Regions from separate parts of the Homo sapiens genome. Here region 2 is linked to region 1. Evidence: fine-mapped expression QTL. A gene starts in region 1. The other region holds a variant in brackets. All regions are shown on one strand. Distances are from middle to middle.

What was found. PIP is the estimated chance that this variant, and not a neighbour inherited with it, causes the effect.
Region 2: its variant is fine-mapped to the expression of BCL7B in whole blood (TOPMed, PIP above 0.99).

The regions. Positions count from the first base shown.
Region 1 is chr7:73,552,411-73,561,512 of GRCh38, reverse strand. BCL7B (BAF chromatin remodeling complex subunit BCL7B) reads left to right here and starts at 3,823. Exons shown (of 6, transcript NM_001707.4): 1 at 3,823-4,026. The coding sequence starts at 3,935. RefSeq lists silencers at 3,548-3,787, 3,838-3,947, 3,968-4,017, 4,038-4,487.
Region 2 is chr7:73,533,102-73,542,203 of GRCh38, reverse strand. BCL7B (BAF chromatin remodeling complex subunit BCL7B) reads left to right here. Exons shown (of 6, transcript NM_001707.4): 4 at 2,152-2,322; 5 at 4,191-4,270; 6 at 4,814-5,848. The coding sequence ends at 4,906. Among named protein-coding and RNA genes, the nearest start is that of BAZ1B, 15 kb to the right of the region's middle. The variant C/T (reference allele first, on the strand shown) is at 5,330.

The sequences.
Region 1 (9,102 bases):
GGCTGGGTGTGGTGGCTCACGCCTGTAATCCCAGCACTTTGGGAGGCCGAGGTGGGTATATCACCTGAGGTCAGGAGCTCGAGGCAAGCCTGGCCAACATGGTGAAACTCCGTTTCTACTAAAAACACAAAAAATTAGCCGAGTGTGGTGGTGGGCACCTCTAGTCCCAGCTACTCAGGAGGCTGAAGCAGGAGAATCACTGGAACCCAGGAGGCGGAGGTTGCAGTGAGCCAAGATCGCACTACTGCACTCCAGCCTGGGAAACAAAAGCAAAACTCCGTCTTAAGGGAAAAAAAGAAAAGAGGCTGGGCGCAGTGGCTCATGCTTATAATCCCAGCATTTTGGGAAGTCGAGGCAGGCGGATCACCTGAGGTCGGGAGTTCGAGACCAGCCTGACCAACATGGAGAAACCCCGTCTCTACTAAAAATACAAAATTAGCCAGGCGTGGTGGCGCATGCCTGTAATCCCGGCTACTCAGGTGGCTGAGGCAGGAGAATGGCTTGAACCAGGGAGGCGGAGGTTGCGGTGAGCCGAGACTGCGCCACTGCACTCCAGCCTGGGTGACAAGAGCGAAACTCTGTCTAAAAAAGAAAGAAAAAGAAAAAAAAAGGGTATCAACACAGAGCATTTGGGTAGGCTATGAGGAATAGGTGGTAGGTGCCCACTTTGATCACTCTCTTACACAGACCGAGCCCCAGTGGAAGATGAGGTGGGGAATGTAGGACTAGGTGGACAAATGTAGGGAGAAAACAAGGTTGGGGGGGTCTCTGGGACTTTGCCCCAGGAAGACGACTGGCTGGGTGAGCTGGGGGAGACATGTGTGCAGGGAACCTGTGCAGCTGGGAGGAGCGCTGGGCTGTGGACGAGAAGGAAGCTACAGACAAGAAACCTCACGTGGGAGGATTTGGACAAGGGTGAGACAGACACAGGGGCTGTGTGCCTCAACCAGGGGGATCTATGGGCAGAACTGGAGAAGTCTCAAGGGCTGGCCTCTCTCTTGGCACGTATGTTCTGCCTTTCTACTGCTTTCCTCACCTTCACCCCAAGGACAAGGAGTGTGTCTTACTCAACTTCACATCACCTGCAGTGTCCACTGTGCTAGGGCGTACAGCAGGTGCTTAGGCAATCTGCGGTTATTTTGGATCGGCTGGGTCTGAACAACAAATGTGCCACCTTTGATCCCGTTATTTCTAGAATCATCTTTTCACTCCACATGCTGGTTCAGCTTTTGCACTCCTCAGTCAGGCAGAAGCTATTTCTGGCCCCCTCGCCAGTAAGATGACATATGCTTGCCCTATGTTGCTTGATCATGAAAGGCTGACTCATAATCAGAGGCTGTCTCAAGTTCAGGGCTAGCTAGGCATTTCTCTGGAGCACATGGAAATTAGTTTCTTTATAGGTGAGAACAGCCACTACCAATCTGCTTTCTGTCCCAAGCTGTGTCCTGAAACAGCTGCTACAGGACCCTCTCCGCATACTGCAAGCGTGGGTGACACCTGCCTGCAATTGGGTGGGGGCAAAGAGGACAAGAGCTTGCACTGGATTCAACATTCATGCAAACATTTATTGAGCATCTGTAGCATCTGTGAACACTGCCCTGGGAGTAACAGCACCTACCCTATTTTTAGAGGTCAGCTTCAAGATTAAGGTTGTCATAACACCTCTTTTTTCTTTGCTGCAGACTAGGAATAAAAGCCATAGCATCTTACACCTCCCCTCCCCTACTTAAGCTGGCATTTATCAAATAGCATTTTACTTATTTGTTTAATTAATTTATTTTTTCCAAGATGGAGTTTTGTTCTTGTTGCCCGGGCTGGAGTGCAATGGTGCGATCTTGGCTCACTGCAACCTCCACCTCCTGGGTTCAAGCGATTCTCCTGCCTCAGCTTTCCAAGCAGCTAATTCTGTATGTTTAGTAGAGATGGGGTTTTGCCACGTTGGACAGGCTGATCTCAAACTCCTGACCTCAAATGATCCACCCACCTTGGCCTCCCAAAGTGCTGGGATTACAGGCGTGAGCCACCATGCTCCGCCTAGGCTAGCATTTATCAAATAGCATTTTAAATATGCTTTGGGAAGCTGGACCCAGTGACTCACGTCTGCAATCCCAGCACTGTGGGAGGCCGAGGAAGGAGGATCAATTGAGTCCAGGTGTTCAAGACCAACCTGGGCAACATAGGAAGACCCTGTCTCTACCAAAAAAAAAAAAAAAAAAATGTCAGCGAGGCATGGTGGCCCTCGCCTGTGGTCTCAGCTACACAGGAGGCTGAGGCAGAAGGATCACTTGAGCAAGGCCCTGTACCAAAAAATAAGTAAAAGTAAAAAATAAATATTTTTTTTTCGTCTGAATGTTCTACTAAACTGGAAGCTCAGCCAGTCACAGTGGCTCATGCCTGTAATCCCAGCACTTTGTGAGGATCCCTTGAGACCAGGAGTTCAAGACCAGCCTGGACAACATAGTGAGATCCCCTCTCCACATGAATAAATAAACTGGGCCGGGTGCGGTGGCTCACGCCTGTAATCCCAGTACTTTGGGAGGCCGAGGCAGGTGGATCACGAGGTCAGGAGTTCAAGACCAGCCTGACCAACATGGTGAAACCCCATCTCCACTAAAAATAAAAAAATTAGCTGGGTGTGATGGCGGACGACTATAATCCCAGCTACTCGGAAGGCTGAGACAGAAAATTGCTTGAACCCGGGAGGCGGAGATTGTAGTGAGCCGAGATCACACCACTGTACTCCAGCCTGGGCAAAAGAGCGAGACTCCGTCTCAAAAAAAAAAAGGCCAGGCGTGGTGGCTCACGCCTGTAATCCCAGCACTTTGAGAGGCCAAGGCGGGCAGATCACGAGGTCAGGAGTTCCAGACCAGCCTGACCAACATGATAAAACCCCGTCTCTACTAAAATTACAAAAATTAGCTGGGCGTGGTGGCACCCGCCTGTAATCCCAGCTACTCAGGAGGCTGAGGCAGAAGAACCGCTTGAACCCGGGAGGCGGAGGTTGCAGTGAGCGGAGATCACACCACTGCACTCCAGCCTGAGTCACAGAGCGAGACTCCGTCTCAATAAATAAACAAACTGGAAGCTCTTTGAAACCAAAACCACGTATGTCTTCAGCTTTAGGTACAGAGTCTTGCACAAAATAGACATCTTTTTATTTATTTACTTTAGAGACGGGGTCTCGTTTAGACATGGGGTCTCCATATGTTGCCCAGGCTGGAGTGCAGTGGCTATTCACAGGTGCGATCATATCATAGCTGACGGCAGCCTCAAATTCCTGGGGTCAAGTGATCCTCCCGCTTCAGCCTCCCAAATACTTGGGACTACTAGATACTCGAGAAAAGGCAAGAATGTGGTCTGAATGCTGGGAAAGCAGTTCATCTGGTAAAGAGAGGAGGGGATTCCAGGTGAGGAACAGGTGTGTGCAAAGACCGGAAGCCATCCTTAAGAAAGGCGTGGTTGGAGCACAGCGTAGGAGCCAGAGGGCAAAGGTGCTGGGCAGGAGAGGCGGGAGGACAGAGATGGCGCAGGAGTGCGGTTCCACAGGGTCAGGTTCCTAACACGCTGGCCAGAGCAGGGAGCCGACCTCCAAACTCTCAGGGAAGAGAACCAGGTTGCCCACCGGCGGCACCTCGCACCTCGCCCTGACCACAAGCACGTGCGCCCAACCCGCCTCGCACCCCGGCCCGGGTAGGGGGCTCAGGGGACTCCCGGGGCACTCAGGAGGGACGCCCCGGGCGGGGCGCGCAGGCGCGCTGAGGCCGTGAGCCCCAAGGGGCGGGCGGGTGCGCGCGCTTTCTCGCGCACGCGCGCACGGAGGGGGCGACGGCCGCTGTGACGCTGCGGCGGCGGCGGGCGGGCGGCGGCGCGTGAGGCGCGCGATCCCCGGTGTCTTGGGAGCAGTGCCCCGGCCCCCGCCGCTCCCGCCGCCGCCATGTCGGGCCGGTCGGTCCGGGCGGAGACCCGCAGCCGGGCCAAGGACGACATCAAGAAGGTGATGGCGGCCATCGAGAAAGTGCGGAAATGGTGAGGGGCCGGAGCTTAGGGGGCTGGCGGGGGTCGCGGATCCAGGCCCTGAGGAGCGTGGGACTGGCGGGTCAGGTGGGAGCCGACCGGCCGGCGCTGGGGGAGGGGGGTGCGGGAGAAGGCGGGAGGAGGGCGCCGCTGGCGTCGGCGTGAGGTCAGAGGGCGCGCCGGCCGCGGCCAATCAGCGGTCCTCCCGGCTCGCGGGCCCGCCCACCTGCTGCGGCTGCTGCCGCGCGCCGCCTGGGAGGGGATTCCGGCTTCCGGCCCGGACTGGAGCTGCCTGGCGTCGGTGCCCGCGCCCGGCCCAGCCCGGGGCCCGCCCTCCCCTCTTCCTGGGCAGTGGCCCCGCCTGCGTTTCCAGGCTTCCTCTTGATAATAGCGAGTAGCCCTGGAGTGGTGTCAGCCCGCCAGGCTGAGCGCTCTGCGTATTCAGGCGTTGAAGTTGGGTGAGTTTCTGGGTTAGTCCATCTGTCAAGGGAGCAAGCCTGGTGTCATCCAGAGGGATACCCCTCCCTTTCCCCCAGTAACCGGCCCCTGCGCCGCGAGCTTGGTAGGCATTTTCTCTTGCTGCCCCGGCGGCTGTCAGGAGAGTCCTTTGCAAACTATGTACCAGCCTCCCTCTAATTTCCCTGCTTCTGCTCTTGTTCATTCCCCAGTCCGTTCATCATTTGCACTGTGTGATTTTATTTTTCTCACTTCCAAGTAGCAGAGTGGTCTTTTTAAAGTGCACATCCTTACTTGGGAGGCTGTGGTGGGAGGATTGCTGGGACCCAGGAGTTGGAGGCTGCAGTGAGCTATGATCGTGCCACGGCACTCCAGCCTGGGCTACGGAGAGAGACCCCGTGTCTAAAATGTTCATGGAAGATGCCGATTGAGCCCCTGTTTAGTATCCGGAACTCCGATACATACTATATCGGTGTGTATCGGAGTCATCACATTAAACTTTCACAGCCAACTTCGTCAGCTCTTTTGTATAGCCAATTACTACTAATAATTTAAAAACCCAGGTCTGGCTAGGTGAGGTGGCTCAGGCATGTAATCCCAGCACTTTGGGAGGCTGAGGTGGGCGGATCGCTTGAGGCCAGGAGTTTGAGACCAGCCTGGGCAACATAGTGAGACCCCGTCTCTACAGAAAATAAAAGTTCAAGTAGATGTTACCTCCCGCCAGGAAGCTTTCCTTAACTCCTCCCATCCCTTTACCTCCTTTAAGGTCGTTGGTACGTTGGACTTTATTTGTGTGTTTATCTGTCCATTTCCCCACAAGAGGGAAGTTCCTTCTCTTTTTTATGTCTGAGGGCTTCATATATAGTTGGGTTTCAGTATAAATATTAGTTTAACATACTCATGGTTTTCCTCGTCCACCTTTAATCCTCCGAGGTTTTGGTGAAACCTAAGAACAGGTACACCTTTCTCTTCTCCCCATTTTTGACCCCCCCGCCCCTAGCAGGCTAGGCTGAAGGGCCATCCCCTGTCACCTGGAACTCTGTACCAGCCTCCCTGTAAACTCTCTGCTTCTGCTCTTGCTCATTCCCCAGTCTGTTCATTTGCACTGAGTGATTTTATTTTTCTCTCTTCCGAGTAGCGGAGTGACCTTTTTAAAGTGCACAGCCTTATTTGGAAGGCTGTGGTGGGAGGATCGCTGGAGCCCAGGAGTTGAGGCTGCAGTGAACTATGATCATGCCATGGCACTCCAGCCTGGGCAACACAGTGAGACCCCATCTGTAAAAAAATATATAAAATGTGCATCTTATCCTAGCACCCCTAGTAATGCTTCAGTGGTTCCCTTCTTGCTTTTAGGATAAATACTGAAGAAGGCCCTCCTTCCTGCCTCACTTGGCTGGCTCTTTCCCAGGATGCCCGCTGTCTTACCAATGAAGTCACTCTGCTCTTCCTGCCGCCTGGCATTCTTCTTCCTCTCTCCTCTCCTCCCTCTTGCCGAGTTAACTCCTAGCTCAGCTCAAAAGTTGCTTCCTTAGGTTTACCACTTGAGATTCCCAATCTAGATCAAGTCTCCTTCATAGACCTTTCCACAGTTGTATTAGATGGACTCATAAGACATTTCCTATATTTGATTTCTTTTTTTTTGAGACAGAGTCTTGCTCTGTCACCCACGTTGGAGTGCAATGGTGCGATCTTGGCTCACGGCAACCTCTGCTTCCCGGGTTCAAGCAATTCTGCCTCAGCCTCCCGAGTAGCTGATTATAAGTGTACACCACCACACCCAGCTAATTTTTTGTATTTTTGTGGAGACCGGGTTTCACCATGTTGGCCAAGCTGGTCTTGAACTCCTGAATTCCAAGTGGTCCTCCCACCATGACCTCCCAAAGTGCTGGAATTACAGATGTGAGCCACTGTGCCTGGCCTCCTGTATTTGACTAATTAACCTACAAAAATGGCAATTTGATATGGTTGAACCTGATGATTAAGTGACTAATCTTGAATTGAGCTATTCATGTCTGTTTCCAGATATAAGACAGGGTCTGTGAGGGCAGGGACTGTGGATCTTGTTCCCTGCATCACCAGGGCCTAGCACAGCCTGTTGTATACTAATTGGTTGAATAAATGAGAAAATGGAGTGGTCTGTTCAGGAATTAATTTTAGTTATTTTCTAAGACTTTAATTCGCTCCTTCTGTTACATCACAGTCTCTTTACACTCCCAGTATGTCATCTGTTTTTTTTTTTTTTTTTTGAGACCCAGTCTTGCCTGTCACCCAGGCTGGAGTGCAGTGGCGTGGTCTTGGCTCACTGCAGTGTCCGCCTCTGGGGTTCAAGCAGTTCTTCCGCCTCAGCCTCCTGAGTAGTCGGGACTACAGGTGTGCGCCACCATGCCCGGCTAATTTTTGTATTTTTAGTGAGGACAGGATTTCACCATATTGCCCAGGCTGGTCTCGAACTCCTGGGCTCAAGTGATCCACCCACCTCAGCCTTCTAAAGTGCTGGGGTTGCAGGTGTGAGCCACCGTGCCCGGCCCTATTATGTCATCATTTGCTGAACAGCATCAACAACTACAACAGCAGTTGCTTTTTTTTTGCTTTTTCGTGACTTCATATTTGGACTTGACTCTTTGAGAAGTTGGCTCAGATCTGTGACAAAGCAGTTCCCTGCATTTGACCCTTGTTCCTACTGACAGCAAGTACCTCTTAAGGTATTGGTGGACCTTAAAATAAGCAAATTTGTTCTCTGCCTGCACGCTTAGGGAATAACCTTCTTGGAATGAAGGAGAGGCTGGGCACGGTGGCTCACACCTGTAATCCCAGCACTTCGAGAGGCTGAGGCAAGAGGATCGCTTGAGCCCAGGAGTTCAAGATCAACCTGGGCAACATGGTGAAACCCTATCCTTACTAAAAATACAAAAAATTAACTGGGCGTGGTGGCCTGTAGTCCCAGCTACTTGGGAGGCTGAGATGGGAGATTCACCTGAGCCTGGGATTTTGAGGCCGCAAGGAGTGGTGATCACGCCACTGCACTCCAGCCTGGGTGACGGAGACCCTATCTCAAAAAAAAAAAAAAAAAAAGTCTCCTTTGTTCTATCTCCTCCACACATTTGTTTGCAGACCTCGAAGGCACTCTGTGGGTAAGCTCAGAACAGTGGCATTCTAATCTGGTGTAGATAGTTGGGGGTCCTTAGTCATTTAGAGAGTGACCTTGTGCAAGGCTTATCCCTTTGCTTATTTCGTGAGCGTAGTGGACTGATAAACTCTGCCATTTTTACCCCTTTGGAACACAGCAAGAGACAGGATTTCTACAAAGCTTTGAACTTCAAAGTTGAAATTTAAAAATTTCTTTAGACTAGTTTTCTTTCTTTTTTTTTTTGAGACGGAATCTCGCTCTGTCACCCAGGCTGGAGTGCATTGGCGCAATCTCGGCTCACTGCAACCTCTGCCTCTCAGGTTCAAGCAATTCTCCTGCCTCAGCCTCCTGAGTAGCTGGGACTACAGGTGCGTGCCACCACACCCAGCTAATTTTTTGTATTTTTAGTAGAGACAGGGTTTCACCGTATTAGCTAGGATGGTCTCGATCTCTTGACCTCGTGATCCGCCCACTTTGGCCTCCCAAAGTGCTGGGATTACAGGTGTGAGCCAGCGCGCCTGGCCTAGTTTTCTTTTTCTTTATGCAGTCTTAGTAACCCAGAAAGGGAAAGGTTCCTAACATTTCACACCCACCAGGCCATACCCCCCAGCAGCAGGTGTCTCTCCTGAGATTGTTTGCCCCTTGGAAGGGTCTTTAAATGGACACAGGAGGCCAGGTGTGGTGGCTCATGCCTGTAATCCCAGCATTTTGGGAGGCCAAGGTGGGCAGACTGCTTGAGACCAAGAGTTCAAGACCAGCGCGGGCAACAAAGAGAGACCCCCCACCCCCACCCCACCACCCCAACCATCTCTACAAAAAATAAAAATTTGGCTGGGCGTGGTGGTGTGCGCCTCTAGTCCCAGCTACTCAGGAGGCTGAGGTGGAAGGATTGCTTGAGCCCAGGAGGTCAAGGCTGCAGTGAGTTATGATTGTGCCACTTCACTCCAGCCTGGGAGGCAGAACGAGACCCTGTCTCACTAAAACAAACAAAGAAAAGGAATGTAGTAATAGAACTCATATATTTGGTAAAGAGAAAAGCACTCAAAGTAACTCGCATGCAAGTAAAAAAGAATATGGTGCTGTGTGTGCTACCTTCCAGCCTTATGTCCCACATCCTTTTTTTTTTCTTTCTTTCTTTTGAGACAGGGTCTCTGTTGCCCAGGCTGGAGTGTGGTGGCGTGATCTCAGTTTACTGCAACCTCTGCCACCTGGGCTCAAGGGATCCTCCCACCTTAGCCTCCGGAGTAGCTGGGATTACAGGCACACGCCACCACGCCCAGCTACTTTTTGTTTTTTTTTTGTAGCGACAGAGTTTCACCATGTTGGCCGGGATGGTCTCGAACTCCTGACCTCAAGCGATCTGCCCACCTCAGTCTCCCAAAGTGTTGGGTTTACAGGCGTGAGCCGCTGCGCCTGGCCTGTATTTTTTTTTTAGAGATGAGGTCTCGCTAAATTGCCCAGGCTGTTCTCAACCTCCTAGGCTTGAGTGATCCTCCTGCCTCAGC
Region 2 (9,102 bases), 19 kb after region 1:
ACTCCCACTGTATGCAGGTACCGTGCGTTGCACTGGGGAGTCAAGGACAAGTGAGCCACAGAGCCTGTCCACAGAGGCTCATGGGAGGAAGCACGTGTGCGAAATGATAAATGCAGGCGTGCACAGGCTATCACAGGAGAGTAAGAGAGGGTGGGCATTTCCACCTATGCGAGCCAGGGAGGTAGGGCTCCGCGGAAGAAGTGATGTCGGGGCTGTGTTGGGAGGTCTGAGGCTTTCCAGGACAAGAGAAGGCAGCCTAGCCAAGGAACAGCTGGGCAGAAGCACCCATGCATGACGAAGCTCTTGGGTTAGGGTCCAGTCTGCCTGGAGCTGAGGATGCTTGTAGGAGAACAGTAGGCACTGAGGCCAGAGATCAGAAAGGACTTCCTATGTTGCGATAAGGCCAGCTCCTGCCTCTCCTAAGAAGTACTGGGTATGGCTGGGCGTGGTGGCTCATGCCTGTAATCCCAGCACTTTGGGAGGCTGAGGCAGGTGGATTACCTGAGGTCAGGAGTTCGAGACCAGCCTGACCAACATGGTGAAACCCCGTCTCTAATAAAAATACAAAATTACCCAGGCGTGGTGGCGCAAGCCTGTAATCCCAGCTACTCAAGAGGCTGAGGCAGGAGAATCAGTTGAACCCAGGAGGCAGAGGTTGTGGTGAGCTGAGATAGCACCATTGCACTCCAGCCTGGGCAACAAGAGCGAAACTCGGTCTCAAAAAAAAAAAAAAAAAAAGTACTGGGTATGACATTTCTCCCTTAGGCAGCAGTGGAGCGTCGAAGGGTTTAGAAAGGTCTCTCTGGCAGTGGTTTGCAGTTCAGTTTAAGGTACGTGAGACTGGAGGCAGGGCAGTGAGGTATGTGGCTGTTGCAGGAGGCCAGGCTGGAGATGATGAGGCTTGAACTGAAGCAGTAGGAGAGGAAGGAATGAGCACAAATGATACCAGAGCAGGAGGGGGAAACACTTTGGTGACTGGCTACTGTAGGTGCAGCGGAGGAATGCATTGGTGACTCTTACTTTTTTTCTTTTTTTTTAATTTTAATTTTTATTTTTTGAGACGGAGTCTCGCCATGTCACCCAGGCTACAGTGCAATGGCACGATCTCAGCTCACTGCAACCTCCACCTCCCGGGTTCAAGCGATTTTCCTGCCTCAGCCTCCCAAGTAACTGGGATTACAGGCGCGTGCTATCATGCCCGGCTAATTTTTGTATTTTCAGTAGAGACGGGGTTTCACCATGTTGGCCAGGCTGGTCTCAAACTTCTGACCTCAAGTGATCCGCCCACCTTGGCCTCCCAAAGTGCTGGGATTACAGGCGTGAGCCACTGCACTCGGCCTGGTAACTCTTTTTTTTTTTTTTTTTTTTTTTTTTGAGACAGAGTCTCGCTCTGTTGCTCAGGCTGGAGTGCAATGGCGCGATCTCGGCTCACTGCAAGCTCTGCCTTCTAGGTTCATGCCATTCTTCTGCCTCAGCCTCCTGAGTAGCTGGAACTACAGGTGCCCACCACCACAGCCGGCTAATTTTTTGTAATTTTAGTAGAGACGGGGTTTCACCGTGTTAGCCAGGATGGTCTCGATGTCCTGACCTTGTGATCTGCCCACCTCGGCCTCCCAAAGTGCTGGGATTACAGGCGTGAGCCACCGTGCCTGGCCTCGGCCTGGTAACTCTTAAGTTTTGCACCTTGATGGTGACTTTAAGCCTTCAGGCAGAACTCCCAGGTGCTAATCCGTCAGTCCGGCAGCCGAAGCCTGAGCTCACCACCTTCAGACACCACCAGCCTCCTTCAGATGCCCAAGGATGCCTGACAAATGTCATTTTCTACACATCTTATGATGTGAGAAGGATTGAGAAGTACTGACCAGAGACACAGCTACATCCCTCCCTTCCACAAGCTGCAATCAGTGGATAATAAAGAAGAGTTTAATAAGCATATCCTGACCTTCCTAAAGTGTAATGTTGCATAAACATAAAGATTCTGGCTGCCTCTGGTGCTTAGAATCTATGTCGTGTAGGCCGGGCACAATGATTATTATACTCAGTTGTATCCTTGGCTGCCTAAAGTGATGCCAGGCCCTTGGCTCTGTCCAGAGTTCCTCTTGAGGAAAATGACCACGCTCAGCTGCTGCCTTTGTTCTGTTTGGTTTTCAGACGAAAACAGCAACCAGAGTTCCGTGTCTGACGTCTATCAGCTTAAGGTGGACAGCAGCACCAACTCAAGCCCCAGCCCCCAGCAGAGTGAGTCCCTGAGCCCAGCACACACCTCCGACTTCCGCACGGATGACTCCCAGCCCCCAACGCTGGGCCAGGAGATCCTGGAGGGTGAGTCGTGGTTGGCCGAGGATGAGTTTCCTAGAAGGGCCTTGCTTTCTGCTCTTGTTGTGTCTCGTCTTTAGAGTAACAGGCTCGAGAGAGCACCTCAGAGCCAGGCAGCACCAAGCCCTTTCTCGATAGCTTAGGAATGATTATAGTTTCCCCTTTCACAGAGGGAAGGGAGAAAACAAGCATTAGAGTTGCGTGCCAGGCTGTGTGGAAGGAACTTGAGTATTTGACGCCTGCTATAATTCTCTCAAAAATCCTGTGAGGTGGCAGCTATTGTCTTCTTTTACAGATGAGGAAAATGGACATTCAAAGCTTAGAAAGGTTAAATTGGGCTGGGCATGGTGGCTCACACCTGTAATCCCAGCACTTTGGGAGGTCGAGGTGAGCGGGTCACTTGAGGCCAGGAGTTCAAGACCAGCCTGACCAACATGGCAAAACCGTCTCTACTAAAAACATAAAAAATTTAGTTGGGCGTGGTGGCATGTGCCTGTAATCCCAGCTACTCCGGAGGCTGAGGCAGAAGAATCACTTGAACCCAAGAAGCAGAGGTTACAGTGAGCTGAGATCACACCAGTGTATTCTTGCCTGGGCAACAGAGTGAGACTCCATCTCAAAAAAAAAAGACCTGGCGCGGTGGCTCACACCTGTAATCCCAGCACTTTGGGAGGCCGAAGTGGGTGGATCACCTGAGGTCAAGAGTTAGAGACCAGCCTGACCAACATGGTGAAACCCCATCTCTACTAAAAATACAAAAATTAGCCAGGCATGGTGGCGCAAGCCTGTAATCCCAGCTACTCGGGAGGCTGAGGCAGGAGAATCACTTAAACCCAGGAGGCAGAGGTTGCAGTGAGCCAAGATCGCACCAGGGCACTCCAGCCTGGCGACAGAGCTAGACTTCATCTCAAAAAAAAACAGAGAAAGGTTAAATCGCTTGTCTGAGATCACATAGCCAGTCTAGTAACTGTTGGAATGAATGTCACTTTAAGTCCTTCTATTTTCAGCATTTATGCTGTCTGCATTACATGCTAAATTTTTTTCTTTTCTTTTTTTTTTTTTTTTTTTTTTTAAAGAGATAGGGTCTTGCTCTGTTGCCCAGGCTAGAATGCAGTGGCTGAATCCTAGCTCACTGCAGTCTTGAACTCCTGGGGTCAAGTGATCCTCTTGCCTCAGACTCCGTAGTAGTAGGACTGTAAGCCTTTGCCACCATGCCTGGCTTTCTTTTAATTTTCTGTAGAAATGGAGTCTCACTATGTTGCCCAGGCTGGTCTTGAACTCCTGGGCTTCAAGTGATCCTCCCACCTCAGCCTCCAGAGTAGCTGGGATTATAGGTGTGAGCCACCATGCCCGACCCAGGTTTCTTGTTATAATATGGATATATAGATGTGTCTTAGGCCCTTGTTACCTTCTCCTGTGCTGTGACCTGTTAACAGCCAACTACAAAATGGAACTTGTTTCTCCATGGGAAATGCCAATTGTAGTTAATATTTATTGTGTTCTTACTATTTGGCATGTGCTGTTCTTAGCTCCTGTGTTTTATTACTTCATCTCGTCCTCATAGCAACTCTCAGAAAACTGGGAGATTGAGTTAGAGTTGTGATGTTTGGGCTAGAGGATGACAAGATGAGCTGCTTTGTCGGTTCCAGATATCTCCAGCCCAGCAGAGATGGCCCTCTGCAGTCTAGCCGTATTTTGCCCTTCCACCATTCTTGGCTGTGACCTGGTCCAGCTGGGCCCTGAATGAATGTTTGCTTCTCAGGCCAGTATTCTCCCCTCCTCACCAAGCCACCTCCACACAGCTCTAAGGAAGCTCCCCCAGGTCCAGGCCTCAGGGGAGCCCTGCCCTCAGGCCGACCCTACTGCCTTTTCAGAGCCCTCCCTGCCCTCCTCGGAAGTTGCTGATGAACCTCCTACCCTCACCAAGGAAGAACCAGTTCCACTAGAGACACAGGTAAGCAATCACTTTGAGTTTTCCAGTTTTTTGTTTTTTTGGTTTAAGGCAGGGTCTCGCTGTTGCCCAGACTAGAGTGCAGTGGTGCGATCCTGGCTCACTACAACCTCCACTGCCTCCTGGGTTCAAGCAATTCTCCTGTTTCAGCCTCCTGAGTAGCTGGGATTACAGGCGCCCACTACCACACCTGGCTAATTTTTGTATTTTTAGTAGAGATGGGGTTTCACTATGTTGGCCAGGCTAGTCTCGAACTCCTGAGCCCAAGTGATCCACCCATCTCAGCCTCCCAATGTGCTGGGATTATAGGTGTGAGCCACTGTGCCCGGCCAGGCTTCCCAGTTTCTAAGTCAAAAAACCAGGAAAGACTGTGGATGTGGGGTTGGATCTGCAGCGCCGGAAATGAGTCCCAGGGTTGTAGGCAGGGGAGGATGTTTGATCATCTGCTGGAAGGAGCAGAGTGGACATCCCATTATAATTCGGGTGGGTGGGAAGGTTCTGGTTGGGAGGGGTGGCCCTGGCATTCCATGCTCTGCCTGCTCCTAGGTCGTTGAGGAAGAGGAAGACTCAGGTGCCCCGCCCCTGAAGCGCTTCTGTGTGGACCAACCCACAGTGCCGCAGACGGCGTCAGAAAGCTAGCACCATCCCGGCCCTCCGCCTCCTGGCCCTGCCTCTATTTATTGCATTCTGGTTCTGGCCGCGCCGCGTTGCTGGGGTAAGGGCAAGCACTGGGGTCAAGAGCCTGCACACATGAGCCTTCCGGGCTGGAAGGCTGGCGTAGGACTTGGGGCTGTAGCATCATCTTCCTGACCCTGGCACCTGTGTCTACTTGCTCCCGAGAAGAGGAGCGCTCATGTCTTTTTTGCACCCCAAGTTGGCTGGAGCATCGGCCACCCCAAGATTCATCTGTGACCTCCAGGCAGCAGTCTCTGCTCCAGAATCTCTGGACGGAGCTGCTGGCAGCTTCTGCGAGAAGAGAGAGATGTGGAAGGCACCTTCTAGAAGAGAGCGTGCCTCAGGTTACTTGAACTTGAACGGAGACTGTAGACTCCCGGACTTTCC[C/T]CTAGGACTGGGGGCCCTGTAGGCTGCTGTTGGAGGACTGGGTAGAGACATTGGAGGGAAGGGAAGGGCTTTTCTCCACACAAGGGCAGAGAGTCCGTCTAGATTTCTTGCTGTCCTGCCAGCTCTGCCCATGCCTGAGGTGGTCCTACCTCTCACGGGCACCCTAGCTGCTGACAGCCCTTTGTGGCCGCCGTCCCCATCCCCTGCCCTCAGCACACACATCTGCACACACGCAGCTTTGTTCTCACCTCTACCTGTCATTCCAGCATCCCTGCCTCTTGTCACAAACTGCCCCAGCAAGAATTTGAGGTTCTGACAACAGTACCCATCCCCCACAGTACCCCTTCAGCTCAGTTTCTAGAAAGCTCCCTTTTCTTTGAAATCTGCATGTTGAATTGAACTTTGTGATTTTATTTTTTGTTTCAAAAAAGTTTAAGAAAATGGAAATGGGCAACAGTGAGTGAAGACATATTTTAGCACTGAATAGAATATTTTTAAAATTAAACTATTTGAAATATGTCCTGTTGGTATCTGAGTGCTTCCTTCTTGAAGGTTGCGGGCCGGGGTGGGGGTGGTGGCTGAGTGCTTGTGGGGTCACTGTGGGCTGGGCCTGCCCATCCTTTCACTCCCACAGTGTGGACTTCATGACAGTGATTTCTAGCCTCCCTTTGAAGCTGTCACGTAGTTCAAATTATGCTTCTCGCTGGGCGTGGTGGCTCATACTTCTTATCCCAGCACTTTGGGAGGCCGAGGCAGGAGGATCACTTGAGGCTAGGAGTTTGAGACCAGCCTGGGCAACACAGCAAGACCCTATCTCTATCTAAACAATATTTTTAAATTAAAACATAAAAACCAGGCCAGGCGCAGTGGCTCCCGCCTGTAATCTTAGCACTTTGGGAGGCTGAGGTGGGTGGATCATCTGAGCTCAGGAGTTCAAGACCAGCCTGACCAGCAAAATGAGACCCCATCTCTACTAAAAATACAAAAATTAGCCAGGCATGGTGGCAGGCGCCTTTAGTCCCAGCTACTTGGGAGGCTGAGACGAGCATTGCTCGAACCTGGGAGGTGGAGGTTGCAGTGAGCCAAGACTGCGCCACTGCGCTCCAGCCTGGGTGACGGAGCGAGACTCCATCTCAAAAAACAAAACCAAATTCCATCCCTGTGTACACCAAATGCAGCCCATGGATGTGTTTTCCACAGGTCCATGTAGTTCGGAGGGATTCATGAGTTCTTTTTTTCCCCCCTTGTGGTAAAATACACGTAACATAAAAGGTTTTTGTTTGTTTGTTTTTTGAGACAGAGTCTCACTCTGTCACCCAGCAGGCTGGAGTACAGTGGTGTGTTCTCAACTCACTGCAACCTCTGCCTCCCAAGTAGCTGGGATTACAGACGTGCACCACCACGTCTGACTAATTTTTGTAATTTTAGTAGAGGTGGGGTTTCACCATGTTGGCCAGGCTGGTTTCGAACCCCTTAGGCTCCCAAAGTGCTGGGATTACATGTGTGAGCCACTGCACCTGGCCAAGAGTTACTTTTGTCACCATTGTGAAGTGTGCATTTCAGTGGTACTGAGTACTGAGTACATTCACAGTGCTGGGCAGTCCTCACAGTCCAGCTCCGAACTTTTTTATTATCCCAAATGGAAACCTCATGTCCAGTTAGCATCATTCACCATTTCTTCCCCTCCCCTCGGGCCCTGGCAGCCACAGATCTGTTTATTTCCCGGAGTGATTCCCCTCATTTCTCACAGGGGCTCCAGGTGTCATGGATGAGACTATAATACAAGTTCTACTGTTCTATGTTTTGTTTTTGTTTTTTTTGAGACGGAGTCTCGCTCTGTCACCCAGGCTGGCAGTGGCGGGATCTCGGCTCACCGCAAGCTCCGCCACCCGGGTTCACACCATTCTCCTGCCTCAGCCTCCCGAGTAGCTGGGACTACAGGCGCCTGCCACCACGCCCAGCTAATTTTTTGTATTTTTAGTAGAGACGGGGTTTCACTGTGTTAGCCAGGATGGTCTCGATCTCCTGACCTCATGATCTGCCCGCCTCGGCCTCCCAAAGTGCTGTGATTACAGGCATGAGCCACCGCACCCGGCCCCTGTTTTATCTTTTCTTACAAAATATAAATAGGGCTGGGGCTGGGCACGGTGGCTCACGCCTGTAATCCCAGCTACTCGGGAGGCTGAGGCAAGAGAATGGTGTGAACCCAGGAGGCGGAGCTTGCGGTGAGCTGAGATCACGCCACTGCACTCCAGCCTGGGCGACAGAGCAAGACTCCATCTCAAAATATATATATATATATAAATATTTTTATATATATAGGGCTGGGCACAGTGGCCTGTAATCCCAGCACTTTGGAAGGCTAAGGCAGGAAGATTGCCTGAGCCTGGGAGTTAAGACGAGCCTGGGCAACATGGCAAGACCCTGTCTCATTAACAAATACAAAAATGTAGGCCGGGCGTGGTGGCTCACACCTGTAATCCCAGCACTTTGGGAGGCTGAGGCGGGCGGATCACGAGGTCATGAGTTCGAGATCAGCCTGACCAGCGTGGTGAAACCCCCATCTCTACCAAAGATACAAAAAATTAGCCGGGCGTTCTGGCACATGTCTGTAATCCCAGCTACTTGGGAGGCTGAGGTACAAGAATCTCTTGAACCTGGGAGGCGGAGGTTGCAGGGAGCCCGATTGCGCCATTACACTCCAGCCCGGGCGACAGGGTGAAACTCTGTCTCTAAAAAAATAAGTAATAATCTTTTAAAAATGTAACAGCCAGGTACAGTGGCTCATGCCTGTAATCCCAGCACTTTGGGAAGATCGCTTGAGCCCAGAAGTTCGAGACCAGCCTGGGCAACATGGTGAAACCTCATCTCTAAAACAAAAACAAAAATTAGCTGGGCATGTTGGTGCATGCCTGTAGCATCCCCTGCTCGACGGCTGAGGTGGGCGGATCTCTTGAGCCCAGGAGGTCAAGGCTGTCGTGAGCCGTGATCATGACACTGCACTCTAGCCTGGGCGACAGAGGGAGTCTCAAAAAAAGAGACATATAAAATCAAATTGTCAAATGAATTTTACAGATAATGTGATTGTATGTGGTACACAAAATACGTATTTTTTTTCTGAGACAGAGTGTTCTCTGTCACCCAGGCTAGAGTGCAGTGGCGTGATCTTGGCTCACTGCAACCTCCGCCTCCCAGGTTCAAGCAATTCTCCTGCCTCGGCCTCCTGAGTAGCCGGGATAACAGGTGCCTGCCACTGTGCCTGGCTAATTTTTGTATTTTTAGTACAGACGACGTTTCACCACCTTAGCCAGGCTGTTCTCGAACTCCCAATCTCGTTATCCACCCACCTCAGCCTCCCAAAGTGCTGGGATTACAGTCGTGAGCCACTGCGCTTGACCCTTTTTTTTTTTGTAAAGACAAGGTCTCACTATGTTGCCCAGGCTGGACCCACCTCGGTTTCCATTTCCCAAAGTGCTGGGATTACAGCCGTGAGCCATCATGCCTGGCCAACATAACTGTTTTAATGTGTTTAAACAAAGGAAAGTATAATGGGCTGGGTGCAGTAGCTCATGCCTGTAATCCCAACACTTTGGGAGGCTGAGGAGGAGGACTGCTTGAGTCCAGGAGTTTAAGACCAGCCTCAGCAACAAAGGGAGACTCCATCTCTACAAATAATTTTTTTTTTTTTTTAGTTAGCTGAGTGTGGTGGTGCACACCTCTGGACCCATGTACTCTGGAGGCTGAAGCAGGAGGATTGCCTGAGCCCTGGAGGT